7 linked regions of the Homo sapiens genome follow. The protein of the gene in region 1 interacts with the protein of each later gene in a pairwise test. Each region holds a gene or a part of one and is shown in the gene's direction. Other genes may lie near its edges. The genes, in order: TMEM132D, TOB2, EFEMP1, TMED5, SAMD12, UMOD and PRMT3.

Region 1 (4,030 bases):
CTGGTGCTGGCCAGAGGTCACTCTCAGCTTCTAGCTGGGTGGAAATCTCTACAGCTTGGCTCACAGCATGCACCTCACTTCATCAGAGTGAGCAACTGCAAAGAACCAAGGAAAGAAAACACAAGCAAGACAGAAGTCACAGGCTTTTCAAGTCTAGCCAGGAAAGTGACCATCCAATCACTTTTGCCATAACTTTTTCATTGGATGAAAGAAACTAGGTCCAGCCCACACTCAAAGGGAGAGGTTTACACAAAGTAGTAAACCCCTCACCAGGAGGTGAGGGGCCACTGTGAACACTTTAAACTCTGCTGGCTGCACCGGCCATGCTGATGGGTCAGTGCTCATGCCAGAGCAGTGGTTAGTATCTGAAGTTCACCTCTGCATGTCTGGCTATAAACTCCTTGAAGTCTCATGGCCTACCTACCTCTGCAGCCCCCACCAGGCTCCACACACGGCCCCTTACAGAGGACCAACAAGTAACTGTCTGCAAACTGCACTGCTTCTTTCACAGGCCTGCCGGGGACAGTGAAGAGGAGGAGGATGATGAGCGGAGGGGCCGCGGCTGCACCCTGCAGTACCAGCACGCCATGGTGCGGGTCCTGACGCAGTTTGTGGCTGAGGCGGCCGGCCCTGGGGGACACCTGGCCCACCTGCTGGGCTCAGACTGGCAAGTGGACATCACGGAGCTGATAAATGACTTCATGCAGGTGGAGGAGCCCAGGATCGCCAAGCTGCAAGGCGGACAGATCCTGATGGGGCAGGAGCTTGGGATGACCACCATTCAGGTAAAAAAAAAAAAAAAAATCCCCAAATCAAGATCTCTCTGTCTTCCCACCTCTGCTCTACCTAGAGGAGAAACCAGCTGTTTGTCATTGCTGGGAATGGTATCTATTTTTAGGATGGGTAAATTCAAAGAAATTGTGGAGTAAGCAATACAAGCGATTTTGGCTGGGTGTGGTGGTTCACGCTTATAATCCCAGCACTTTGGGAGGCCGAGGCGGGCAGGTCATGAGCTCAGTAGTTTGCGATTAGCCTGGGTAACATGGCGAAACCCCATCTCTACCAAAAATACAAAAAATTACCCGAGTGTGGTGGTGCATGCCTGTGGTCCCAGCTACTCGGGAGGCTGAGGTGCAAGGATCGCTCGGGCCTGGGAAGCAGAGGTTGCAGCGATCTGAGATCGTGCCACTACACTCCAACCTGGATGATGGAGCTAGACCCCATCTCAGACAAAACCACAATGCAAGCCATGTAATGATGTGATGAGAATCTCAAAATTCCTCACATATTACTTATAGGGGAGAAACTCTGGGCTGGCTCCCATGGTGGCTCACGCTTGAAACACATGATTTTGCCCAAGCCATGGTAGGCGTTACCATCTTGGTAAACAAGCTTTTGAGGTGAGCTTACCTGATCTGAATCACAGGCACGGCCAGCAACTTCCTGCTGAGCCACTTTCCGCCACTGAGCATGGTCACCTAAACCTTCCCACGGCTTCAGGATATTGTGGCCGCCCCTACCGAGTCACAGCCGCGGGCCTGATGAGAACCTGAACAACTCAGAAATGTGCTAAAGGACGAAGTGAAGTGATTGTGCCTCCATATGTCTCGTGGGCCCCTTCTGCTGGGGAGCGGGTGACGGAGAGGACCAGTGGCAACACTTGGGTTTTGAAACACTTTAACAAAACAGTGTTCTGGGAGGCTTGTAAGGGTTTGGTCATTTACCTCCCAGCTGAGAACAAAGCAAGAGATTGTTTTCTTTCTGTGTACATGTAAGGGGTGCAAGTGCAGCTTTGTTACCTGGACATATTGCGTGTCTGCCTTGTTAGTGTAGCCATCACCCAAATAGTGTACATTGTAGCCAAAGGAAGAGTGTATTACTCAGCAGCTGCCCCATCTGCAGGCAATGCGATTGTCTTATCAGGCAATCTGTGAGGTTTCTAAAACAGCTGTGCATGAGGAATCATTATAACTGAGACTAGATTGGATCGTGGAAGATTTAAAACATATCCATTCTGGAAAATTGGCTGGTATATCTAACACTTCATTTTATCCAAGGAGGAAAATAAATGGGTTTGGGCCGTAGACCAGGAGTCGCATGCTCTAATGATCTCTAAAGGCTGAGAAGCTACCATCAGTGAGGAGAGTAGGCTGGGTGTGTGCTGAAAGACAGACAGCAGCTGATTTTCCTCTGAGTGTTAGAGAGACAACAGGGAGTGGTGGTGCCTGTGGAAAAGGGGCAAGCTCTTACTCAGAGCCAAAAGCTGCCAAGAAGAAACGCAAGTCTACTGCAGCCATATGTTGCAATTTTCCAGAAAAGCTGGAAGTCTGTTTTTATATGCAATCTTCTGGCTCTCTAAATGATGGTCATTAATTCTACCTTAAAATATGATTTATGTCAGACAAAACATATCTGTCTCATAGATGAGAGCTTGCAACCTCCACAATTGACTAAGAAGTTGAAAGACCTGAATCCCTACCATAAATCTATAGGCTAAACTGATACTGATGCCCAGAAACTCACAGCGAGATGAGAATTTGGTATTAACATCTTCCCTTAAGTGATAATTTAAGTGCAAAGGGGAAAAGCCATACCGTTCTGAAACCAGGTGTCAGGGAAGAGGAAGTGGGCCAGCTTCCCACACATTAAACATGAACATTATTTTGGTGAGGCCTCTACTCCTGCGAGCCTTGGTTCTTTTCTCTTTTTTCTCACTGTGTCCTCCTGAGTCATAAATTCACTTGTCCACTTTCTTCTGGGGACACACCTCTCATGCTCGCCACCATTTAAATTGTCCCAATCGGACCAGAAAGTGAAGGTGGCATTCGGGTAGAAGTATGGAGCTTTGATTCCTGGTCTCAAAGGGTCCTGGGAAAACTGCTGTCTTGACCTACATCATAAATATCACCAAAAACTTGAAAAGAGAAAGAGGTCGAGAAAGCAGGAGAATGGAGGATGAAGCCCATCTCTTCTAGAAGGAAGGTTGTTATACGGGGCTGTGAGGAGTCTAAGACAGCTGTTTATCATTTGGGCGAAGGGTGAGAGGAGGAAGAAGTGATTCCACAGACGTTCCTCAAAAGCAGGATTTCCTGTTCAGGGTCTAAATTGCACATAAGCCTCATTTTCCAGGTCATTCCAGGTGTCCAGAGGAGAAATGAGGCTTTGGGTTGTGGGCATCAGGCGTAGACATTCAGAACCTACGTTTATCAGAATATGCCCAACGATATTCCTCATCAACAGGCATCATGCGCTGCGTTTCCCAAAGTGTACAGTGTGGCCTCCAGTGACACGCGTGATTGAGATGGACCAGCAGGATCCGCCTTCTAGTTGCACATTGGTTTTTATGTGCAAGAGCGAAAGCTATCAATATGTAACCAGTACACCCAACCCGTCATTCACTGGTGATAGGAAGGCTTTTGAAAAAAACAAATCATTTAAGTAAAATAAATAATTTTAAACAAAATACACACTGTGCTGTAGAAGAATCATAAAGCTAATAGTCGAATGAAAACGTCAGTTCCTCCTGTCCAGGATGGAGCATGGTGGGAAACGGAGCTGATGTGTGGGGTGTGGGGAGAGGGCCAAGCCCTACCTGCCCACTCCTTGACACCACCTTGCTTTATGCAAAAAATGCATTACATTTTCTCAAGCAATACATATGATTCAGAAGGTGGTGTGAGTGGGAAAGGCCTGTTCTCATTCATTCTGGCTCACATGTTGCCCTGCCGCTGCCTGCACACTGGCACTTCCTCCTGTGACTGGAGGCATTGCCTGGACCACAGAAAGCCTTTCCTTGTCATGTCGCTTCTGCCCTCCAGATCCTGTCTCCTCTGTCAGACACCATCCTCGCTGAAAAGACCATCACTGTGCTGGACGAGAAGGTGACCATCACAGACCTCGGGGTGCAGCTGGTGACAGGGCTGTCACTCTCCTTGCAGCTCAGCCCAGGAAGCAACAGGGCCATCTTTGCCACTGCAGTGGCTCAGGAACTTCTGCAGAGGCCAAAACAGGTATGGAGGAGGGCTTGAGA
Region 2 (4,338 bases), on another chromosome or scaffold:
CAAGGAGATCAAGAGCAGCTTCAACCCTGACGCCCAGGTGTTCGTGCCCATTGGCAGCCAGGACAGCTCCCTGTCCAACTCCCCATCGCCATCCTTTGGCCAGTCACCCAGCCCTACCTTCATTCCCCGCTCCGCTCAGCCCATCACCTTCACCACCGCCTCCTTCGCTGCCACCAAATTTGGCTCCACTAAGATGAAGAAGGGGGGCGGGGCAGCAAGTGGTGGGGGTGTAGCCAGCAGTGGGGCGGGTGGCCAGCAGCCACCACAGCAGCCTCGCATGGCCCGCTCACCCACCAACAGCCTGCTGAAGCACAAGAGCCTCTCTCTGTCTATGCATTCACTGAACTTCATCACGGCCAACCCGGCCCCTCAGTCCCAGCTCTCACCCAATGCCAAGGAGTTCGTGTACAACGGTGGTGGCTCACCCAGCCTCTTCTTTGATGCGGCCGATGGCCAGGGCAGCGGCACCCCAGGCCCGTTTGGAGGCAGTGGGGCTGGCACCTGCAACAGCAGCAGCTTTGACATGGCCCAGGTATTTGGAGGTGGTGCCAACAGCCTCTTCCTGGAGAAGACACCCTTTGTGGAAGGCCTCAGCTACAACCTGAACACCATGCAGTATCCCAGCCAGCAGTTCCAGCCCGTGGTGCTGGCCAACTGACCATCTACCTGCCCGTGGGGCCAGGAGCACCCAAGACCACAGAAAAGAGAAAGGAAAGGCCAAAAAAAAGAGGAAAAGAAAAATGTACAAAAAGATTTTCGATCTTCTCACTCTTACTTCTAGAAAAAAGATCCAGCCCAGGCACGGAATGGGAGGGCCCTGCAAAGCACCCAAGTGTGTTTCACTCACCCCTTACCGCTCGCCCACCGGCCTGTGATTTATTTGGTTGGTTTGGGTTTTATATTTCTTTTTCTTTTTTTTTTTTCTTACATGTAGTTTTCTATATAACATCTTTAATGAGTGGCTTCCTGTGCTAAGAATGGTCCAGATGTGAACTGCTGCTCCCTGCTCCTCCCTTCCTCCTTCACACTCCTAGTTTAGGATTGATGTGTCCAAGCTCATAGGGAAGAAAGAGCTGCAGCTGGAGCCTGACCCTCCCTGGAACAGGGAGAGGCTGGCCCGTGTCACTGCCTCTGTCACCCAGCTATCCTCGCACTCAAAGCCATCCAACCTCAGCAGGCCTTCTCGGGCCCTGCCACCTGAATAGGTCTGACCCCAGTCCCCACTCCCTTTCAGGCTGGGCCACAGGGAGTTGCTGGCTGGCCACTTGACACCCTCCCCCTGGAGCTGATGTCTGTGACTACAGGGAGATTAGCACTTCGTCTAGTGAAACTCCTTTCATCTCTGTCCTATGGCCCCACCCCACCATTCCCTCTAGGCCCAGACCATCATCATGGCCCTGGCCATTGATGTGTATGGGCTTTCTTTCCCTCATGCAGCCCCTTCTTCCCCAGGCTGGATGTTGTGGGTAGGGAGGGGTGTGTGTGTGTGTATTTGGTTTGCTGTCCTTTTTTAAAGGATTCCAAGCCATGTGAAACTTCCCTTCTGGATGTGATTCTGGGTCGCAAGTCCTTATTTATATGTGAGGCTGGGGAATGGGCTGGGGGTATTGGCAGTCCTTTTGCAGGGCAGTGTGTGTGGTGGGGTGACACCGCTGTGGCTTAGCCCAAGACACTCCCAGAGGAAAACACTGCAGAAGGAACTGGTTTGCAGACTGTGGAAGGATCTGCAGTTTTGTTTTTGACCAAAAAAATAATAATAAGTTAGCTCTGAAGGGCAGAGGGAATACCCAAGCCCCTGATGCCTATGAGAAGTCCCTGGACTTCAACCCTCCTGTTGTTTGGCCTTAGCCCAGAGGGAGCTGCTCACCTGAGCACCCTTGGGGGTGGGCAGAGAGGCAGGGTGGGATTTTAGAGTTAGTGTCTGTGCGGGGGCAGCCCTGAGCCTGGAGTTGAGACTTTGGGGTCTCTTAGTTTGGAGGTGTTGAGTGCATTTGTGCCCCTGCCTGGTTGAGAGCTTCTTGGTACCTCTTGCCACCCCTTCTCACTGCCCTGACCCAACCCCACTGGACCTTGATGCTGCGAGGAGTGGTGTCCTGACGGACTCAGCACTCCCGCCTGATGTATTGGATCATAGGAGAGCACTTGCTCTCCTGCCTCTGCCAGGAGAGGGCTTGTTCCTCCAACTCTAGGAGGCCAGGCAAGCATGGACAGGAGCCAAGGGAGCAGGGTCATTAACTTTTTCTTCTTTGCAAAGTGGGCACTTGGCATCAGGGTCCCAATCACCAGAAAGCACCAAAGCCCCTGGCACCCCACCCACTCCATCCTACCCAGGGACCCCAAGTAGGCAACTGTTATGGCAGTGGGTCCAGCCCAGGCCAGCACTGCCAGCCTCCTCTCCCTGCAGTAGGCACCAGCTCTACCTCCCCCGGCAGGCAATGTCCTGGCTTCTCAGCCCAGCACCATCTGTTCCCCTAGACTTCTCAGGGGCCAGCCCAGTCTGGGCCACCCTTTGTTTCCCTCATCCTCGGCTCCCACACAGGTGACAGACCCAGCAGATAGCTTCTCTCTGGGAAAGGTTGGATGCTGCCTTACATCCCCTTCTAGCCCTCCTCCCATCCACACACACAGGCACCCACCCACACCAGGTCGGCTTGTTTCTCACATGTAGGGAGAGAGGGGAGACCAACCCCTTTGTGTCTTTTGAAATACGAAGAAAAATGTGTGTTCAGGAGCATGACTCCAGTGCTGCGCTCTTGGGCCCAGTTCAGTCTGTCTTGTCTCAAATCTAGGCATTTTTGCTTCAATTTTATTTTTTTTAAGAATACAAAAACAGAAATCTGCACTAATTTACCTGGTTTCGTAGGAAAACTTTTTTTTATTTTTTACATTTTTTGGTGTCCGTTTGTATTGAATAATTTGCTACATTTGTAAAATGTAAGAGGTATATAATATATGTATATTTCTAACGTAAAAAACATAATTTTTTTCTTTTCAAGATTTTTTCTTAAAAAGATGAGAGAAACATATTTTTTCAGGAAAAACAAACTTTAAAAAAAAAAGAGGAGAAATAAAACCTTTTCTCCCCTTTCCCCATCCTCTATCTATCCCTCTTTCCCAGGAACAAATCAAAAGGTGGATTATCTTCTGAAGAATGGAAACTGTTAGTCCAGAATGATGTGTTTTTCTCAATGCAGTGAGTTATAGATTCTCTAGTTTTCTCCCTAGGGATGGGAAGGGGGCATTGAGGCAAGCCTGGAGAGGAGCCCGGGGAGCAGGGTCATGAACTTTTTTCTTTAGTGAAGGAGGAATACAATCAAGGGTTTTGTATTCAGAATGTTGTGCAATATTTTGGAATGGGACATTGGTGTGTTTAGAGATTTTAGTTTAAAAACAAAACAAAAAGATTGATCAAATCTGTACAGTTTCTATTGTTCCAGATTTTTTTAAGTTTGTATTAAAAGCATGATACATAATAGCCTTCTGCCTGCTCCTGGCTTGCTTGGTTTCTGGGGTCCCTTTTGGGATGGAGAGAATGGGAGTGGCCCAGCCCTTACAGACTCCAAGAAACGATTGGTCCTCCTTACAGTGACAGCCTCGGATGGACATAACTGTCCTGGTGCCCCTTCTTGACCACCTATCCATCCCATCAACACAGGATACATCATTGTGCTTGCTACCGCAGATGCTTTTCTACACTGGAAACAGGTTCCACAAAGTTAGAAACCGCTCCAGTTCCCTTAGCCAGTTGGTGGTGGCAGCAGAGCCTGGAGAACGGGGTACTTCATGGCTCTTTAGGAATTGTCTATTCCTGGGGGGAGGAGAGCGGGGACAGCCTCCAGCCTACTCTAGATCTAGTACTTGATCCTTAGTACTAGATCCTTAGATGTGGGCAAGGATGAGAACAGCTTGCCTAAGCCAGGTTCCATCCAAAAGCCCGGTGCTTGGATTCTCAACCCTTTTCTTGGGCTGGACAATTTCGGAGCTGCCTTAAGAGTGAGACAGCCCAGCCCAGAGAAAGCCACCCTTCTGCCAGTGGCCGATTTCCTTAGGAGCTCTGCTATCTCCCAGTGGCCCGGGCCATATTTTCCCCTTCCCAGGGCCTGTGCCTATCAATGCTGCCCATCTAGGAGAGAAACCTCCCACCTTGGCCTCCCTCTCAAAGTGCTGGGATTATGGACGTGAGCCACCATTCCTCATCCTGTTGAATTTTCACAGGGATTGTTCATCCTCACAGGGATTGTCTCCATTTTGCAGTTAAGAAATAGGCTGGGTGCAGTGGTTCACATCTGTAATCCCAGCACTTTGGGAGGCCGAGGCAGACGGATCACTCGAGGTCAG
Region 3 (4,030 bases), on another chromosome or scaffold:
ATTGATACCATGACCCTAGATCACACAGGGAGTGACAGATTCAAAATAATTTCAGTCTTCTTTGTCCTATTACTAGTGCATTCTCATCACTAGTCTACAGTGGCTTATTCAAAAGTAGTTCTAAATTATTTCTTAAACCAAAAGCAGCACAAATTATAAAAGTCTAAATGGTACTCAACACCATTCAAGGTGCAGATAATTTTTGCCCATGAAAACATGCTAAAGGGACTCCATGTTGTGGTAAGTTATCAAATTATGGAAAGAACATTGCAGAGATTAAAATGTTGCATAAGAGAGAGAAAGCAGCATGAGTCAGGGGTTTGGGAAATATGAGTCAGACTGAAGGGAAGGAGCCAAAAACATAGAGAATGAGGGCCTAAGCAGGGACTTAATGGACACCACAGAGATGTGGACAAAGTTGTCTCCATTAACTTTGAGAGAAAATCAAATGTGCGGTTCCCTAGACGTGGGGGTCGGTGTGATAAAGAGGCTAGAAGAGCTGAGCAAAGATTAGCCTGTGTTATTTAAAGCAACTAACGGTGCCAAAGTCAGCAAGAGAGGGACCTACAATAGTATAAATCACTAGGAGGGAGCACGTGGGCACATTTTTGAAAAATGAGGGAATCACCAAATATTGCCATTAGCTATTGTTAATGTATTAGAATGACGAAATGTGTTATGGTATTTTAGGAAGCACAATCTATTATTTTGTTCTTTGGTAATGTTAACATTAGGCTCTGTCTACATAGTTCAGAGAGACTCCTTATGTTGTTCAATCCAGACTCTCTAATCCTGCCTTTAAGGCCTTGAATTTTGTTCACGACAGATCTAGCATTTCATGATCCTCTTCAACCAGGCACTGCACCAGGCTCCTCACACAGAGCCCCGGCAGCTGTGCTGACGCCATCTGTCTGCCATTCTTCTCATGGAAACCAGTTTTGTCTTATCAGCATTTTCTAATGTGAGCTGCTTTCTGCCTAGAAACAGCTTCCTTTTCCTGGCAACCCATGTATCTCGTCTTCTTCAAAATGCAGTGGAGAACCCACCTCTTCTGGCGAATCTGCTTTATACCTCATAGCCTCTGCACTCCTGGACTCACTTGCTCAACATCATTTTTCTTTTACTAACATCTTACTGATTTTGCTGTGTTTCTCAGATATACCTTGTTACTCTGCTTCATACATTTTTAGCTCCATTAGGTAAAACACTGATCCTACTTTTCCTGAAACTTTAGGTACCAATTCTCAGCAAATGGTAATAACTCATTTATCCATTTATTGCACAAATATTTATTGAAAATCCACCATGTTTCATGCACTATCCTAGGCACTGGGAATACAGGGGGGAAAATAAGACATAGATCCCCCATCCCCACCCAAAGAGCTTGGGTCCAGGTCCCAGGAAATTTATTAACTGACTGCCTGAAAAACCAAGTGAGCTTAACTGTCAAGGATAAATTATAATCATGCAAAAACAACAAAAAATTTCTCCCCATAGTAATTTGTCCTAGATTATCAGGAAAATCATGGCTGACCTGAGTAGTTTCCCTTATAAATAAAGCATTGCTTTTGCTAATGCAGATATTCTCCCATACAAATGTAGGAAACAGATTTTTCTTACACACCATGGAGATACCTACAAAAGGCTGTGTTTGCACTATGGGAAGTCAGGAGCAAGTAGAGGGCAGTGGACTGTCATCAACACTCCTGGGAGAGCCACCTTTTCCAGAGCATCTGCACAGGGATGGGTATTCTGCTTTGAGTTTCTGACATCATTGTCCATTTTAGTAAATTTTGTATCATAGTGAGCTTTCTGGTATTTATGACAAATGGAAATGCATAGAAGTAGAAAAGCCAAACATAACGGAATTTAACAATGTATAATAATTTTATATGACTTTGCATAGATGTGTAAATAAGTAATTCCAGGATCTCAAAGTATAATTTTCAAAATAATATTGTGTTATTTAAATAAACTAATAAATTGACATTAACGTAATTGAAAATAGGTCAAAGAAATTCAGTCTGTTTATAGCCTTTAGCATTAGATAAACCACCAACAGCAAAGGAGAGGATAAATATTCTAAACCACAGCCAGAGAAGCCATAAATGGAAATGTAGTTAGTAGCTGCCTCCTGGTCACAGAGGTCACTTTTTTGACAATTTTATGAGTCCCAGTAAGTAAAATGTGTAATCACCAGTCAGTCCTAGGTGAGGCAAGTCTTGTTGCAGCTTTGTTTGGGTGTTGGTGGAGAAAGGGAAGGAAAGTAGTGGCAGTGAGCACAGTGGTATTTGTTTTTTGTTGTTGTTTGTTTTTATTAATTTAACTCACCTAATATTTTTATTAAATAACCCACTCAGAAGGTAAACAGACCTCATTCTTAAGAAGGAGTAGCACAGGTTTTTGTGTTTAAAATCTACTTAATGATACATTAATTCCACTGGAAATGTTAGCCTATTTATCAGACACTAAGAAATGAGCAACAAGAAAGTAGGAAGGAAGTCATAGGGCATCAGTTGTAGGAATGCAGCGGGGTGGAGGCAGTTTGCAGATAGATGTCAAAAAGAAAAGCCTCAGTCACTGCTGAGGCCTCCCTTAGAAAATGCAGCAGCCAGCCCAGGGCCTTGATCTGCTGCCAGAGGAAACTTGCCACATCTGAATCTAACATTGCCGTATCTCTCAGGACTGTTATCACTGCAAATGCTGGCAAATGTTCTTGACATAAAACAATAGATACTCTGCTGTCATTTCTGCATTAACGAGTCATAAAGCTCTGAAGAAACCCCAGTAAAAAGGTTTTCATCAAGTGCATCTGAGAAAATAATAAAAGACACAAAAAACAGCAGATAATTTCAAAGCAGGATTGTTGCACCATCGCATAGTACCTAAAAAGGACAGTTTGTAATCACTGACTTGAAAATAATACTAGTAGTAATTATAATAAATTTCAAAACAAAACAAAATAACAAAAACCTTAGCCAAAACTTTAAAACCAAGTTCAAAGAATTACGTAAGTGGATGCTTTATAGATTATTATCCAATAAATAGCCATACATCACTCAAGTATTTTTCATCTCCCCTCCCTCTTTCTTATCGAAAGAATCTCTCTTATCATTTCCACACCCAGCTAAGTGAAGCTGATTTCTGAGGACAACCCTTTTACAATCTCAACTTCATATATTATTATACTGCATAGTGTAAATGCGCAGTCCTCCTTGAAAATACAGAAAAGTGAAAGGCAAACCAACCTCAGGGTCTACTCTCAGAGATTCTTAGAGGGAAGACAGAAATTGGGTGAATTTTTTATTATTGATTCTTTCCCTACTTTTTCTTCCAACATACTACCATGAGTCTGCCACAGTGATGATCTAAGACCTCTGAAATCTGCCTCAGGGGTCTTAAATCATCACTGTGGTAGACCCAGGGTAGTATTTTGGTTTTTATACAAAAATTGTCATCTAGGAATCACAAGTTTTATGATATTGTTAATGAAGCTTAGAGTGGTTGTTGAAGAATGATGAAATTATATGATCCTTTTTTGTGTACTACTTAACTTCATGATATAGGAGAGCCGAATGAATATAAAAGTGATACAGATAAGGCAAAATTAGATTTTACTTATAAATTACTGTAAATATGAATGTACACACACAAATTTATATCACCTTTTGATCTGAAAGAAATTTCTTATAACTAGTTCATTATGCTATCACTGAGCATTTTTTACTTTTCTAGAACTGTAACCTGCATACTCATTAAGGCACATTTAGTAAATTATTCCAAGAAGTACACTGCTTTGAGAAAATATGGATTTTTAAACTACACAGGCTAGAGGAATATGATCAAATTGAATCCTTTGCATTCTGAAATTTGCAATGAAAGATTTATACATACATGTTGCCCTGCTGTTTGCAAAAACAAACAGCTACAGGGAACGTATAATATTAAAGGTTGATTACACCCAGTTATTGGTTAGATTTTTAGAAATTTGTCAATGGAAATTATCTCAAATACAATATATTGGATGGAA
Region 4 (4,030 bases), on another chromosome or scaffold:
GTTATTTGTTTTTTGTTTTGTTGGTTTCTTTTTTTTTTTTTTTTTTTTTGAGACAGGATCTTGCTCTGTTGCCCAGGCTGGAGTGCAGTGGCATGATCATGCCTCACTGCATCTTCAACCTTCCGGGCTCAAGCAATCCTCACACTCTGCTAATTTTTGTTATTTTTTTGTAGAGACAGGATTTTGCCATGTTACCCAGGCTGGTCTCAAACTCCTGAGCTAAAGTGATCTACCAGCCTTGCCCTCTCAAAATGCTGGGATTACAGGTGTGAGGCAACACACTCAGCCTGTTACTTCTTATTTTTACCTTTAGTTGCTTTTCATCACAAATAGAAATACAGGTAACTTAAAACATGTACTTTTTTTTATACAGTGTAGAGACTGAAGTTGGTGATTACATGTTCTGCTTTGACAATACATTCAGCACCATTTCTGAGAAGGTGATTTTCTTTGAATTAATCCTGGATAATATGGGAGAACAGGCACAAGAACAAGAAGATTGGAAGAAATATATTACTGGCACAGATATATTGGATATGAAACTGGAAGACATCCTGGTCAGTATGGTCTTCTAATAAAATAAAAATTATTAACAGCCAGAGGCCTTACTATGGTAATAAGTTACTGAACTAAGCATTTTATCTGCATTATCCAGGAAAATCTGTTTCTAATATTTTATTTTTGCCATAAATACTTTGACCTCAAGTATCAGCTTAATTTTATTTTATATTAATATAGCCCTTTTATAGTTTTCAAATAACTTATCTTCCAGGACCCTATTATAAAAATAGCTTCAGATGTGCAAATAAGACTGCATCTTGGTAAGTTTGTTTTATAAATGTGCAGTTAGAATTTTTAAATTATAAATAGATTATGCTTCTGATTATACAGCAGGCATATGAAAAGTAAAATGTTTTCTAATTTCACAACTATTTTGTGGTATTAAAACATTGGGTGTTTTACTGAATACTAAATTGTTCAGATAAACATACAAAGAAGGAAATATTATAAACACATGCATTATGTAATAGGTAAATACCTAAAGTTATATCAATTGGGTTTTTAAAAATGAAATCATTTGCCAGGCATGGTAGCAGGTACCTGTAATCCCAGCTACTCAGAAGGTTAGGGGGAGGATCATTTGAGCCCAGTTCAAGGCTGCAGTGAACCATGGTCACACATATAAATAGATACTACACTCCAATATAGCAAGACCCCATCTCTAAAAACTTAATCATTTGACCAGGCACAGTCTCAGGTTGCAATGAGCCGAGATTGTGCCTAGGCAAACTCCATCCCCCGACAAAAAAAAAAAAAAAAAAAACCTTAGTCATTTCCTTTGGTTGTGTGAGGACTAAGAAAGAGATAATGTACGTAAAACTCCTGATGCTATGCCACTCAGAATAATTTCATGTTACCTATTTTCAATTCACAGTAGCTTTGTTCCCTTGTTAAATAACTACTTATAAACAATATAAATATGTCAGGAGAACTATTATATAACCTTACAGAGAATCTCTAATGTAATATAAATAGTACCTGCCCTTTAATTGAATTGTGCAGCCATCTAACTTAAAATTGTGTTTGGATAAAAAACATAAAGCATATTTTGAAAAAAACTTTTTTTGAGACAGGGTCTCACTCACTCTGTTGCCCAGGCTGGAGTGCAGTGGCACCATTATGGCTCATTGCAATCTCAACCTCCTGGACTCAAGTGATCCCCCCACCTCAGCCTCCCAAGTAGCTGGGACCACACTTGGTGCTACCATACCCATCTTTTTGTAGAGGCAGAGTCTGTCTGTGTTGTCCAGCCCAGTCTTGAACTCCTGGGTTCAAGGGGTCCTCCTGCCCTAGTCTCCCAAAGTTCCAGGATTACAAGGCATGAGTCACTGCACCCAGCCTCATTTTTTAATTAAGTTAAAATTTCTGAGCATTCTTTAATAATAAAATTATTTTATTTATCTCCAGGAATCCATCAACAGCATCAAGTCCAGACTAAGCAAAAGTGGGCACATACAAACTCTGCTTAGAGCATTTGAAGCTCGTGATCGAAACATACAAGAAAGCAACTTTGATAGAGTCAATTTCTGGTCTATGGTTAATTTAGTGGTCATGGTGGTGGTGTCAGCCATTCAAGTTTATATGCTGAAGAGTCTGTTTGAAGATAAGAGGAAAAGTAGAACTTAAAACTCCAAACTAGAGTACGTAACATTGAAAAATGAGGCATAAAAATGCAATAAACTGTTACAGTCAAGACCATTAATGGTCTTCTCCAAAATATTTTGAGATATAAAAGTAGGAAACAGGTATAATTTTAATGTGAAAATTAAGTCTTCACTTTCTGTGCAAGTAATCCTGCTGATCCAGTTGTACTTAAGTGTGTAACAGGAATATTTTGCAGAATATAGGTTTAACTGAATGAAGCCATATTAATAACTGCATTTTCCTAACTTTGAAAAATTTTGCAAATGTCTTAGGTGATTTAAATAAATGAGTATTGGGCCTAATTGCAACACCAGTCTGTTTTTAACAGGTTCTATTACCCAGAACTTTTTTGTAAATGCGGCAGTTACAAATTAACTGTGGAAGTTTTCAGTTTTAAGTTATAAATCACCTGAGAATTACCTAATGATGGATTGAATAAATCTTTAGACTACAAAAGCCCAACTTTTCTCTATTTACATATGCATCTCTCCTATAATGTAAATAGAATAATAGCTTTGAAATACAATTAGGTTTTTGAGATTTTTATAACCAAATACATTTCAGTGTAACATATTAGCAGAAAGCATTAGTCTTTGTACTTTGCTTACATTCCCAAAAGCTGACATTTTCACGATTCTTAAAAACACAAAGTTACACTTACTAAAATTAGGACATGTTTTCTCTTTGAAATGAAGAATATAGTTTAAAAGCTTCCTCCTCCATAGGGACACATTTTCTCTAACCCTTAACTAAAGTGTAGGATTTTAAAATTAAATGTGAGGTAAAATAAGTTTATTTTTAATAGTATCTGTCAAGTTAATATCTGTCAACAGTTAATAATCATGTTATGTTAATTTTAACATGATTGCTGACTTGGATAATTCATTATTACCAGCAGTTATGAAGGAAATATTGCTAAAATGATCTGGGCCTACCATAAATAAATATCTCCTTTTCTGAGCTCTAAGAATTATCAGAAACAGGAAAGAATTTAGAAAAACTTGAGAAAACCTAATCCAAAATAAAATTCACTTAAGTAGAACTATAAATAAATATCTAGAATCTGACTGGCTCATCATGACATCCTACTCATAACATAAATCAAAGGAGATGATTAATTTCCAGTTAGCTGGAAGAAACTTTGGCTGTAGGTTTTTATTTTCTACAAGAATTCTGGTTTGAATTATTTTTGTAAGCAGGTACATTTTATAAAATGTAAGCCCTACTGTAAGGTTTAGCACTGGGTGTACATATTTATTAAAAATTTTTATTATAACAACTTTTATTAAAATGGCCTTTCTGAACACTTTATTTATTGATGTTGAAGTAAGGATTAGAAACATAGACTCCCAAGTTTTAAACACCTAAATGTGAATAACCCATATATACAACAAAGTTTCTGCCATCTAGCTTTTTGAAGTCTATGGGGGTCTTACTCAAGTACTAGTAATTTAACTTCATCATGAATGAACTATAATTTTTAAGTTATGCCCATTTATAACGTTGTTTATGACTACATTGTGAGTTAGAAACAAACTTAAAATTTGGGGTATAGAACCCCTCAACAGGTTAGTAATGCTGGAATTCTTGATGAGCAATAATGATAACCAGAGAGTGATTTCATTTACACTCATAGTAGTATAAAAAGAGATACATTTCCCTCTTAGGCCCCTGGGAGAAGAGCAGCTTAGATTTCCCTACTGGCAAGGTTTTTAAAAATGAGGTAAATGCCGTATATGATCAATTACCTTAATTGGCCAAGAAAATGCTTCAGGTGTCTAGGGGTATCCTCTGCAACACTTGCAGAACAAAGGTCAATAAGATC
Region 5 (4,030 bases), on another chromosome or scaffold:
TGCAAGCTCCGCCTCCCAGGTTCACGCCATTCTCCTGCCTCAGCCTCCCAAGTAGCTGGGACTATAGGCACCCGCCACCATGCCTGGCTAATTTTTTTGGTATTTTTAGTAGAGACGGAGTTTCACCATGTTAGCCAGGATGGTCTCGATCTCCTGACCTCGTGATCTGCCCACCTCGAAGTGCCCTTCTCTTCAGTCTTTTGTCTTGATGCCCAAAAAATCTTTTAGAACAGTTTACCTCTACTGCTGGGTGACATTGTCCCTGGACACATTTGGGATATGTAGGAACTGCTGCTGGGGGCTGCTGTTGGTATTTTGTGCCCATGGCCACAGATAATAAATGTCCTGCAGCGCATGGCCATCCCGTATAACGAGGCCAAGCCATGGCCAAGTAATGATCAGTTTACCCAACTTATTGAGAAATGCTGCTTCAGAGAATAAGGAGTTTTGCCAGAGGAACTGGAATAGAAAATACAGTTCGAATTGCTTAACATTCTAAGCTTTAGTCTCCACATCTGGAAAAAATGGGCTCACTACTGCTTTCCTCCTGGGAACATTGTGAGGATTTTTTTTTTTTTTTTTGAGACGGAGTCTTGCTCTGTCGCCCAGGCTGGAATGCAGTGGCGCGATCTCGGCTCACTGCAAGCTCCGCCTCCCGGGTTCACGCCATTTTCCTGCCTCAGCCTCCCGAGTAGCTGGGCTACAGGTGCCTGCTACCACGCCCGGCTGATTTTTTTGTACTTTTAGTAGAGACAGAGTTTCACCATGTTAGCCAGGATGGTCTCCATCTCCTAACCTCGTGATCCGCCCGCCTCGGCCTCCCAAAGTGCTGGGATTACAGGAGTGAGCCACCGTGCCCTGCTCATTGTGAGGATTAAATAAAGGAGAGGGCTTCTAGAAGGGTGTCTGGAACCTGCATCCTAAGTAAATATCACTTGTACTCTCATCCCTTCTCTTAGGAAAAGCTATACTATTTGGCATGTGTTTTATATCCTGAATTTTCACTTATTCATGCCAGCCAGTTTTTCTAATTAGTAACAAATTAGAAGGTTTTTTACTATGTGTAACTTTTTCTTAAGTAAACTTGAATTTGTAAAAGTGTTACTAGCAAGTAGTTCACTCATTCACTTTGCTGAACCTGCAGCCGTGTGTTTAAGATGAAAAAGAGGTGCCCTTTGTTTATTGTTTTGTAACTACCCTGTGTTATGTTTTCTTCTTAGTTTATTTGCAACATCCTATTTATGTCTCCTAGTCTGCTTGTGACCCATGCTTTGCATTTATGGGCAGCTTACAGGTATGCTTTCCCGCCACAGAACAGGGTACGACCTTATGGTCTGCATTTGGATTAGGATTATACTGGCATACATTGCCTTTTTTTAAAAAAAAAAAAAACAAAAACAATGTCTTGTGAAATAATTTAGCAGGACTGGGGACTAGGACCTCTTGGAAGGAGGTAGCAGGGACCCCAAACTAATCCATTCTCTATGGACAGACTGTGTATAGACGGTTAAACCTATTGATGTTTTCTAACAGAAATGGGTTGCAATATTATTCAGGGAGAAGAAAAATGTGGATTCATTGGGGACAGTGTCGTATTCATCTTTGTATTCATCTCTGTATTCCAGGGATGGCGCCTGGCACTTAGGAGGCCCACAGTCATTGTTTCATGAATGACATATAAATGCACGAGTCTCCAGAGCTAGAGAAGGATTTTTTTTTTACCCCTCATCCCCAATTCCTTTTCTTGCTTTGTCCTCAGATATTTATGAAAAAAATAGGGAGGATGGACATTGTACATGGTAATTTCTATTCCAGGTCTAACAGAATAGCACCTCTCATGTGGCAGAAAAATGATTTCCAATATTCAGCACTCACCTCTCTCCCCAAGAAAAACATGTCAAATGCAAGACTGTGTGCTCTTAATGACATCTATATTAAGGGATCTGAATTTTCCATCATAAATGAACATGGTAGCTTACCAAATATCTTCTGATAAGTCATTCAGTGCTCAGGTTCTATGTTTTTTCTCCTGTAGAAGAGTGAAGAAACTACACATCACCAAAATATTGTAAGGCTAAGTAATAATAACGGTGACTGGGAAAATGGGAAATGAGATAGCGTCAAACGTTTGTGACAAATAGAAGCAGTCACGGTAAACACTGGGCTTTGCAGCCCCATAAATGATGACTTTGTACCCAACTTGAACTCAGAACTGCATCACAGAGAGTAAAAGGAGTCACATGGGAGATAAAAACATCATTTTTATCACAAGCTTATAGTGGGTTATTTTTTTCTGACTTTGGGTTGGAGGGTAAGTGGGCTTGCTAATATTGTATGCAGCAGTGAACTTACCCGTCATAGGGATGCCTCCCTCTATGCTAGTGGTCCTTAACCTTTTTGGCACCAGGGATCAGATTCATGGAAGACAGTTTTTCCATGGGGGATGGTTTTGGGATGAAACTGTTCCACCTCAGATCATCAGGCATTAGATTCTCATAAGGCATGTGCAACCTAGATCTCTCACATGTGCAGTTCACAGTAGGGTTTGCACTCCTCTGAGAATCTAATGCCTCTGTTGATCTGACAGGAGGTAGAGCTTGGGTGGTAATGCTTGCTTGCTCACTGCTCACATCCTGCTGTGCGGTGTGGTTCCTAATAGGCCACGGACTGATACCAGTTCACAACCCAGGGGTTGGGGACCCCTGCTCTATACCACTGGCAGCTGGAGAGCAGAGAGAACATGGGCTCCTGCAGCAGGCAGGTGGGACCCAAAGGAAGAGGTGGGGAACCTATGCTTTGTGCCTTTTCACAGACTTGCTCATCAGAGAGTTGATTTCTCCTCTCCTGAGGAGGACCCAGAGGGTAAAGAGGGAGACCAGAAGTGTAATTCTGATGGATTTCCCTTCATAGAACACAAGAAGCTCTGTCCTGCCTCTGTGTGATTCTCTTGGTGCTAGCTCACCTATGCTTTCCTAACTACCTTTTCTTGTTGGGAACATCATTATGAATGTACCTCTTCTACTGGTGGTACTTTCTACGGCAAGGACTATGTCTCATGTCTCATCCTTGAAGCTTGAATGAATGAATGGAGACAAATGAAGGAATGGGTGGGTTTATGACTGCTTTTGATTCCCACAGTAACTCCCATACACATTTAATGAGAACTTCCAACTGTGTTCCTCTACAGAGCAGATGTCATGAAAGCAGTGAGACGATGGACAAGTTTCCCTCATAGGTACTTATCCCTGCAGCAGCTTCATTGTGTGATTGTTAAACTAATTACTCCCTGATTCTCTCCCATTCACTTATTCCTGAGGATCTTTTTTTCTTATTTTTATTATGTTCTCTATACCACCAGATCTGACTTTCCTGCACCAGAGTTTCTATTGATCACTTTGTTTTAGGAAGGAGAATGACGGCTAGAAGTTCGTCATTGAAAATTCCTTCCAGTGACTGTGTGAACAAGAATGGGGCCTCCAACCTAGTTTGAAACTTGCTGTGGCAGCAGTTCCTGCCACCCCCATCTCTTTTGTAGCCCTCTTAGCTAGTTCGGACAGGGTTTCAGTCTAATTGTACTGTTGTATTTCCTAGCCCAGCCCTTCCTAATTCCTTTTATCCCACCCTTTCTTTCTCATCTGCCTTGCTGTTTTCTCACGCCTGAATGAAGAAACAAGCGCTGGTGCTGAGAAGCAGAAACTGGGAAACCTTTGCTGGTGTAGCTGTGTTCTGTAATGCTGAGTCACAGTGGATGACGTGGTGACATATTACAAGGGTAGGGGGAGCTGGGGATCTGAAGCCCATGCTTGAACTCTGGCGAGTGAGTGTCAGCTGTTGTGCATTTAATTATGAGAAAGGGGATATTGCAAATGCTCATTCACAGGCATTCAAGCAGATGGTGCCTTTCTGTTGATAAGCAGTAGAGTAGCACCCATGTACAAGGAACTCTACGAGATGTGGTGGGGAGTGTAGTAAGAAAGGGAGCTTAGCCCACTCTGACCCCTGCCAGTCCCGGCCCTCCCCTGCAGCCTCC
Region 6 (4,618 bases), on another chromosome or scaffold:
CTCTTTGACCCAGAATTTCCACTCCTTGGACATAATCCTGAGGAGATGACAACACCAGTGCCAGTGGTTACCCTACCACTGAGTGGGACAGGATGGAGAAATGTCCTGAAAAGAGCAATTCACAATAGCAAAGACTTGGAACCAACTCAAATGTCCATCAATGATAGACTGGATTAAGAAAATGTGGCACATATACACCGTGGAATACTATGCAGCCATAAAAAATATGAGTTCATGTCCTTTGTAGGGACATGGATGAAGATGGAAACCATCATTCTCAGCAAACTATCGCAAGGACAAAAAACCAAACACCGCATGTTCTCACTCACAGGTGGGAATTGAACAATGAGAGCACTTGGACACAGGAAGGGGAACATCACACCCAGGGGCCTATTGTGGGATGCGGGGAGCGGGGAGGGATAGCATTAGGAGTTATACCTAATGTAAATGACAAGTTAATGGGTGCAGCACATCAACATGGCACATGTATACATATGTAACAAACCTGCACGTTGTGCACTTGTACCCTAAAACTTAAAGTATAAAAAAAAAAAAGATCAATGCAGTGATCATGGTGATATTTTCCTGCTCAGCCCAAGTTCACACATATTTTATTTTTCTCAACATGATGACAGCCACTCTCACACTGACTTTTGGAATGTCATGTATGTTGAACTGGGTCTGAAGACATGGTTTTAACTCAGGCTCTGTCATTTTCTACCTCAGTGATTGCACAACAGCAAAGCAGAATTTTCACTACTTCCATGAATATAATCATTACTATATGACTTTACTTGCATCATCTCCTTTGGTTACTATTACTACTGTGGGAGATGGGTATTCTCATTTTATAGACAAGGAAATTGACCTCTGGACCTCAGGAAGGTTAAGAAATGAGCCCACTGCCACACAATAAACACCAGATAAAGGAGGCAGACTGACTCCAAAGTCAGTCTATTTAAGTGCAAATTTATTTCGCCTCCAAAGGGACCTCCCAGTCATCAGACCTGATTCTTTGTTGTACAGAGTGGGTCAGGTCCAGTGATGTCTGAACTACCTTCTGGTTCTGACTTTCAGCCATTCTCAGCTCCTCTCTTGCTTGTGTCTGGATTCTAAGGCTGATCTCATGAGAATGGGTGTTTCAGAAGGGTGCCCTCTCCAAGACAGGTGCACCTCCCATCTGGGGCAGTGAATATCCCTTTTGTCCTTATGCAGCCTGGCTTCAGATACTGGCTTCTGCCTGGCTCCTTGATCCCACCCTGCCCTTGTCAGTGACCAAGAAGAAGCCCAGCACCTTGGCACTGCTTTCCCAGTTAATTTCTAACTATGGAATCTCTTGCTGTTAGAAGGTGCGAAACAGTGACCTTGTATTTCCGGGCACAGGTGTGACCCCCCAATGTCAATCATTTGGGGTCTCTAGCTATTAGGAAAAAGAACAACAACAACCTCACAGCTTGGACAAGGCAAACATTATGCCAGGAGGAAAAAATATTCCACCCCCAAGAAAACAATATCAAAAAACAGAACTAGAGACTAATTGGAGGAGAGATTGCCAGCCTGGGGCAAATGTGTATATATAAGTATGAGGCACATCATGACCAGACTAACTCTACCTTTCTGGCTTCAGGTAAGGCTATCTGTAGCTGTCTTCTCCTAGCCCAGCTTCTCCCCATCCTATTTGAGGGAGGTAGGAGAGGAAATTAAGACCTTGGACACTGGGGTCAGACCTGGATTTGAGTCATTATTCTGCCAATTATTGGCTTCATGATCTTTAGTAAGTTAGTTTTCCTCTCTTTGATCCTCTCTGTCCTAGTAACAATGACTACTATTTTTTGACTTATTCCATGAATATTAGTTATGCACCTATTATGTGCCAGGTACCAGGGTTACAACAATGAACAACTTGCTATGTGCTGGGCCCTGCTCGACATATGTCATCTTAGTTAATCCCAGTGACAATATGCAGTGTTTTAGGTCGCATCTTATTAGCGGGTCATAAAATCATTCCTTTTGTGGGTTATATCCAGGGACTTCTTTTAATTAAATATAATAGAATATGTCAGTAAGCAATACAAATTTGAGGCAAGCAGTTAGCCTCTTTGTCCCCCTGTTTTCTCATCTGCAAACTAGGATAATACTTATCTCATAGGGTTGTGGTAAGAATTAAATCACTTAATGTAGTAAGGATATCAATTGTCTTATAAAATTTTATGTGTGTGTGCACATACATGCAGAAGCGACTGCACTAGATCATGACATAAAATGTTTTTCTTTCTTTCTGTCTTTTTTTTTTTGGGGGGGGGGGATGGACTCTCTGTCACCCAGGCAGGAGTGCAGTGGCACGATCTCAGCTCACTGCAACCTCTGCCTCCCAGGTTCAAGCAATCCTCCTGTCTCAGCCTCCCGAGTAGCTGGGATTACAGGCGCCCACCACCATGCCCGGCTAATTTTTGTATTTTTATTAGAGATGGGGTTTCACCATGCTGGCCAGGCTGGTCTCAAACTCCTGACCTTGTGATCCACCCCCTCAGTCTCCCAAAGTGTTGGGATTACAGGCATGAGCCACTGCACCTGGCAACATAAAATGTTTTTCTTTTAGTACATCATGGTCACGAAGATCTGGAAAACGTTGCTCTAGGACCCAATGCCTTTGAGCACATGAATGTCTTTGAACTGAGCCTGGCCCATCATAGATATTCAGTTTGTGAAAGCAACAATCTCCATTTCACAGACAAAAACGGAGACTTAGTAAACTGAAATACCCACATCACAGTGTTAGTGATCAGTAAAGCAGGGATTTGAACCTCAGGTGCAGGCTGCAGCTCCTACATACTTAACCAACATGCCACCCTATTTTGCTGCTATAAACACTGGGGTAATACTGGCATCCACCCTGGACTATTTTTCCAATTGGAAGAAATAGTAAGTGACCACTCCAGAAACATTTAAATGCATTGTGAAGGTTAATTACCTCTCAAGTTGCTCGTCTCAAGCCACTTCTTTACGATATGTGAGTTGCATGAAGGAGCAGACTGCCATGTTCATTGTTCTCCATGGTGACTAGCTCCCTGTTTGGCACAATGTAGCTACTCAATAGATGTTTGTTGAATGAATAAGTGATCCAGGCAAATTGAAAGTTTCCAGGCAGAGGATCAGTTAAAATCCAAAGCTGCCTTCAGTAAAGTGGTGAGTCCAGAACACTATTCCATCTGGCTACTTCCTGCTCCAAATGACTGAGTTCTTCAAAATGTGCAATGTGCTGAGAATTGGGGAGCCAAGACTGGGATGTTGGTGAGGTAAGGAGGGGGAGTACAAGGGGTAAAGTCCCAGCAAAACAAGGGCTGCAGTGTTATGCAATTTTTTAGTCCATATAAGTGACACCTCCTGGAGTTGTATACTATACAATCAAAGCACTCCTTCCAGCTGTGGGGAGGAGAGTTAGATCATGCATTTGTCCCATCCATCTCTGTTCACAGGACACCAGACATCAGAGACAGAGAGAAAAATTCAAAGGGCCAACCCGTCTTTCCTTTGGGCAGGTGCTATCTAGACCTGAAGTAGCGGGAAGAGCAGAAAGGATGGGGCAGCCATCTCTGACTTGGATGCTGATGGTGGTGGTGGCCTCTTGGTTCATCACAACTGCAGCCACTGACACCTCAGAAGCAAGTAAGTGAAAAGTGTGTGTGCGTTGTATATGTGTGTATGCACGTGTATGTGTGAATGTGTGGGGGAAGCAATGTAGCACCTGTCAGAGGTGATCTCAATCCTCCTATCGCACTTGAGACTTGCATTGTCTTCATTCTAAGTCCATTTCTTAGACTCAATATGCACAGGACTGACTTAGAAATTTTGCTAAAGTGCATATTCTGGTTCAGCAGATCTGCAGTAGGACCTGAGATGCTGAATTTTTAACAAGCTTCCAGGCGATGCTCATACTGGGGTCCCTGGAGTACACATTGAAAAGCAAGGGGCTAGAACATCTCTAAGGCCTGCAGGCCCTTTATTGGAAGTCAGAAACATACTCTATCACATAGGAGATTTGAACCCATGCAGGAGGATCCAAACACCTTCCCTTTCAACTTTAAGAGGTCATTCCATTGGGTTGAGATTTGCTGTCACCCCACTTTCATTTTCTCCCTGGAGTACGTTGGGGCACGATGAATACTATTGCGGTGTCCTGGTTAAAAGCACATATTTTGTGGTCCTGCCATCTGCGTTTTTATCCTGGTTCTACTTCTTACCAAAGGAGTAAGGGGCTTAATCCCTCTGAACCTCAGTCTCCTCATCTTTAAAATAAGGATACATAAAAAACTGACCTCACGAGGCCCTTGGGAAGTATTCAACAAGATAGTGAGTGAAAAGTGCACATCCTATTGCCTGGCATATAGTAATTGCTTAATAAACAACAGCTTCTTTTTTTTTTTAATGGTTATTTTTATTACGGAGGAACAAAGTACAACTGCCCAGCCAGGTGGAGTTGGAGGACTCCGCAGAGAGGAGGCGACACTGAGCAGGGTCCTGATGAAGATTTCACCAGCCAGGGAAGCAGAAAACATAAAATGTGCAAAGAAAGGGAGGGGCAACAGGTTCACCGTAAATCCTACCAAAGTATAGGAAT
Region 7 (4,030 bases), on another chromosome or scaffold:
TTTATTATGACTAATTTTTATTGCAGCAGAAAGCAAAACAGAAACTGGCCAAACAGTTTGAAGAATTTTGAAATCAAAATACAAAATGAGGTTTGTAGTAGGAAGTAGAAAATACAGTATACCAGCCTTATATAGTTTGGAAATATTTTGTTGTGCTGATTAATTTTTGGTGAATTAGATAGTGAATGATGCAGTTTTTAAACCTCAGTGACTCAATATTCTGCCACAGTGATGAGAAGTTAGTGACACCCTGCACTGCTTTTATAACAAGAATTCAACTTAGGCTGTAGTCTCTTATAGTATAATGCATTCGTTTGGCTTAGCTATTTTGTCCTAATTCCAAGGACGTGTCTTCACAACTAAAAAATGAATAGGAATTTTTACGAAGTCACATTTCTTCCAGTGCTATCCTGAGGGGAAAATGTAATATTTGCACTGCTCACTGCCTTAAGTTGATCCGAAAGTTAGATCAGTAAATGGACACTGATTTTGTGAAATTCACTAACTACATATATTAACTTCTCTTTGTAGAGAAGTGAAATTAAAATTAAATACTAGGAATTAGGATATTTAATAATATCAGCAATAAGACTTTAGTGTATAGATTTCACTCCACCTTGCCCAGGATGAAAAATTATTGAATGTGTAGAATTCTTTACACGCTGTCCTTAGGAATGTTTTTTTTTTCCTCCAGTTTTATTCAGGTATAATTGATAAGTGAAAATTGTGTACATTTCAGGTATACAATGTGATGATTTGATATGCATATACATTGTGAAATGATTACCATAACCAAGCTGATTAACATCATCACCTCACATTCCATTTTTTTATTTTTGTGGTGAGAACAGTTAAGATCTATTGTCTGCAAATTTCAAGTATACAGTGCAGCATTTTTAACTATAGTCACTTTACAATAGACAGATGCCCAGAACTTACTCATCTTGTAGCTGAAAGTGTGTACCCTTTGACCAACATCTCCTCATTTCCACCACCATTCCACTCTCTGCTGCTGTGAGTTTTTTTTTAATTCCACACAAGAGTGAGATCACACAGTATTTGTCTGTTTGTGTCTGGCTTATTTTGCTTCACATAATGTCCTCCATGTTCATTCATATTTTCATATATGGCAGGATTTCCCTTAAGCAATATCTGAATTTAATACCTGCTACAATAAGGACATGGGCTAGGAGGTGGCTTTGTGTAATGGGAAGAACGTGGGCTGGGAAGGCAGGTTTGGGTTTAAATCTTAGTTCCTCCATAAACAGATATATAACTTTAGGATAGTCACTTAATTTCTCTGAAATTTATTTTTTCCTTGCCTAAAATAGGGATAAATACATCTTAACTGTGTTTTGAGAATAAAACAAGATGTAATGATGTACTGGAAAGATACCTGCTGATCAATAAATATTAGGTTTTTTTCTTTCTACTTTTTTCTTTCTTCCTGGATTTGGTTGAGTATAATTAATAATTAATATTTAAATATATGTTCAGTTTAGCCAACTAATGAAAAACTTAGACTAACAGCATGCTCTTTGAATTCAAATTAAAATAGTGTAGATGATAAATATTTATTATTATTATTATTACTTTTAAGACCGAGTCTCACTGTATTGCCCAGGTTGGAGTACAGTGGTGCGATCACAGCTCACTGCAACCTCCGCTTCCGAGGTTCAAGCAATTCTTCTGCCTCAGCCTCCCAGGTAGCTGGGACTAAAGGCTCGCATCACCAGACCTGGCTAACTTTTTGTATTTTTTTTTTTTTAGTAGAGATAAGGTTTCACCAAATTGGCCAGGCTGGTCTTGAACTGTTGGCCTCAAGTGATCTGCCTGCCTCGGCCTTCCAAAGTGCTGGGATTACAGGCAAGAGCCACTGTGCAAAGCCAAGATGATTAATATTCAATTAAAAGTACTTTCACTAATCTTTCTCAATTGGCCACATAGTAGAAACTTAGGGCGTATTTATTCCTAACATATTTATACTTGTTTTATTGTTATAAGATGGCCTGATAATAATGTCCATTTATTTCTTTAGATGTAGAAGATCTTTATGAACCGGTGTCAGTACCCTTCTCATACCCCAATGGACTCAGTGAAAATACATCTGTTGTTGAAAAATTGAAACATATGGAAGCCAGGGCACTGTCTGCTGAAGCCGCATTGGCCAGAGCACGTGAGGATCTGCAAAAAATGAAGTAATTTATCAATCTTGCAAAATTAATTGTTTTAGATCTCCAGAATAATACAACCTAATGGCAAAGTAGAATATAGTAGAACATTTCATATACTGGAAAGTACAATGTAGATATTTTATCTTCATACTGTTAAAGATATGTAGCATTTTTGTACACTATGGATATAGTTAATTAATATAAAATCTTATAGTTTTACCTATTCTGATATGTTCTGACAAATGTTGTCCTCATGAATGTTTTTGTTCTTTATTGCCTTCCTTTCAGTTTTCCTGTTTGCATTGATTTCTCCATTTTACTTTTTCTATCCTAGTTTTTTAAAGTGGAAGGATTAATCTTTTTGAGGTTTGGGGAAAATACAGGGTTGAAGTTTTTAGTTTTAAAGAATCAAAATGTAGGCCGGGTGCGGTGGCTCACACCTGTAATCTCAGCACTTTGGGAGGCCGAGGCAGGAGGATCATGAGGTCAGGAGTTTGAGACCAGCCTGGCCAACATGGTGAAACCCTGTCTCTACTAAAAATACAAAAATTAGCCGGGTTGTGGTGGTGCACGCCTGTAATCCCAGCTACCTGGGAGGCTGAGACAGGAGAATTGCTTGAATCCGGGAAGGGGAGGTTGCAGTGAGCTGAGATCGCACCACTGTACTCCAGCCTGGGCAACAGAGCAAGACTTTGTCGGGGTGGGGTCGGTGGGGGGGAATCAGAATGTAATTATGGTGTAGTATGAACCCAGAAAACCAGATATACAGTGACAGTTTTTTCCAGTGAATAAATTAGCATTCTACTGGTGTAGTACTTTTCAAAGTTTAATGTGCATAGGAATCAACTGGGATCGTGTTAAAATATAAATTCTGATTCAGAAGATTGAGAATAGGGCCTGAGATTCTGCATTTCTGACAAGTATACCTCACAGGCCTTCCTGTTGGATTTGTAAGCTGTTTGCTGTTGCCTGAGTACCCATCTGATGGTTTGCCAGAATGAATGTCCAGCAGGAAAGATAGTAGAGCCAATTGTAGTTCCTCTTCCCTGTTTCAGAATTTTTATGCTAGGTAACCAAGTAACCAACACCAGCTCTACCTTTTGCCCCTTTGAACTTCTCCCTTTTATATACCTTATGGATTCCTAATATGTCATGATCTGAGAGGGATCTAAGTTTTAGAGCTGGAGTGGGCGGTGCTGGTGTATGTAAATAATTATCTATTTGGGTCTACTTTCTGCTTACATAATACTCCCAAGAAATAATATGGTTTTAAAGAATATTAATAGAGCTGAAATAAACGACATTGATTCATTTGCTAAAAAAGGATTTTAAAACAATAGAAATAATAGAGGATTATAAAAGTAATATGCTTATTTGTTCAGTTGAAAGACATAAGGAGCTACAATCTGCGGTTGGCATTGCTTTTGTGGTTTGTAGAAGGAGTATGTATAATTGTTTCTGAATATTGCCATTGCTTCAGATCCAGCAGGGGGAGCTTTCAGTTGTTCAAGATAGAATGTGATTTAGAAGACTCATCACACTGTACTCCCTCCCCTTTCCTCTTCCTCAACCTCTAGCCTTTCCTTTATTCATGGTCCAATAAACCTGTCTCAAGGGTGTATTTCAAATTGATTACAGACAATTTGCTCAGGATTTTGTGATGCACACAGATGTCAGAACCTGCTCGTCATCTACTAGTGTCATTGCGGACCTCCAGGAGGATGAGGATGGTGTTTATTTCAGCTCATACGGGCATTATGGGATACATGAAGAAATGCTAAAGGTTAGAAAAGAACACAAATGCGTCAAATCCATACTAAAGGAAAAATAGAACAGGTTCTTTCTTAATATATGTG

Evidence for each region.
Region 2: the proteins of TMEM132D (region 1) and TOB2 interact in a two-hybrid assay, tested with the Homo sapiens proteins (one large-scale study listed by BioGRID).
Region 3: the proteins of TMEM132D (region 1) and EFEMP1 interact in a two-hybrid assay, tested with the Homo sapiens proteins (one large-scale study listed by BioGRID).
Region 4: the proteins of TMEM132D (region 1) and TMED5 interact in a two-hybrid assay, tested with the Homo sapiens proteins (one large-scale study listed by BioGRID).
Region 5: the proteins of TMEM132D (region 1) and SAMD12 interact in a two-hybrid assay, tested with the Homo sapiens proteins (one large-scale study listed by BioGRID).
Region 6: the proteins of TMEM132D (region 1) and UMOD interact in a two-hybrid assay, tested with the Homo sapiens proteins (one large-scale study listed by BioGRID).
Region 7: the proteins of TMEM132D (region 1) and PRMT3 interact in a two-hybrid assay, tested with the Homo sapiens proteins (one large-scale study listed by BioGRID).

Annotation. Positions count from the first base shown.
Region 1 is NC_000012.12:129,078,514-129,082,543, reverse strand, and holds part of TMEM132D (transmembrane protein 132D precursor), read left to right. Parts: exon of another isoform or gene 1-95; intron 96-511; coding exon 512-785; intron 786-3,818; coding exon 3,819-4,010; intron 4,011-4,030. UniProt on the Homo sapiens protein: Regulate neuronals morphology via inhibition of the WAVE regulatory complex (WCR), a complex that controls F-actin cytoskeletal dynamics.
Region 2 is NC_000022.11:41,432,631-41,436,968, reverse strand, and holds the end of TOB2 (protein Tob2), read left to right. Parts: coding exon 1-658; 3' UTR 659-3,475; downstream 3,476-4,338. UniProt on the Homo sapiens protein: Anti-proliferative protein inhibits cell cycle progression from the G0/G1 to S phases.
Region 3 is NC_000002.12:55,882,178-55,886,207, reverse strand, and holds part of EFEMP1 (EGF-containing fibulin-like extracellular matrix protein 1 precursor), read left to right. Parts: intron 1-4,030. UniProt on the Homo sapiens protein: Binds EGFR, the EGF receptor, inducing EGFR autophosphorylation and the activation of downstream signaling pathways. May play a role in cell adhesion and migration. May function as a negative regulator of chondrocyte differentiation.
Region 4 is NC_000001.11:93,152,827-93,156,856, reverse strand, and holds part of TMED5 (transmembrane emp24 domain-containing protein 5 isoform 1 precursor), read left to right. Parts: intron 1-373; coding exon 374-557; exon of another isoform or gene 558-599; intron 600-772; coding exon of another isoform or gene 773-821; intron 822-1,968; coding exon 1,969-2,187; 3' UTR 2,188-4,030. UniProt on the Homo sapiens protein: Potential role in vesicular protein trafficking, mainly in the early secretory pathway. Required for the maintenance of the Golgi apparatus; involved in protein exchange between Golgi stacks during assembly.
Region 5 is NC_000008.11:118,615,391-118,619,420, reverse strand, and holds part of SAMD12 (sterile alpha motif domain-containing protein 12), read left to right. Parts: intron 1-4,030.
Region 6 is NC_000016.10:20,349,698-20,354,315, reverse strand, and holds the start of UMOD (uromodulin isoform a preproprotein), read left to right. Parts: upstream 1-1,600; 5' UTR 1,601-1,627; exon of another isoform or gene 1,628-1,774; intron 1,775-3,137; exon of another isoform or gene 3,138-3,296; intron 3,297-3,476; 5' UTR 3,477-3,578; coding exon 3,579-3,666; intron 3,667-4,446; coding exon of another isoform or gene 4,447-4,545; intron 4,546-4,618.
Region 7 is NC_000011.10:20,393,765-20,397,794, forward strand, and holds part of PRMT3 (protein arginine N-methyltransferase 3), read left to right. Parts: intron 1-2,038; coding exon 2,039-2,198; intron 2,199-3,812; coding exon 3,813-3,957; intron 3,958-4,030. UniProt on the Homo sapiens protein: Protein-arginine N-methyltransferase that catalyzes both the monomethylation and asymmetric dimethylation of the guanidino nitrogens of arginine residues in target proteins, and therefore falls into the group of type I methyltransferases.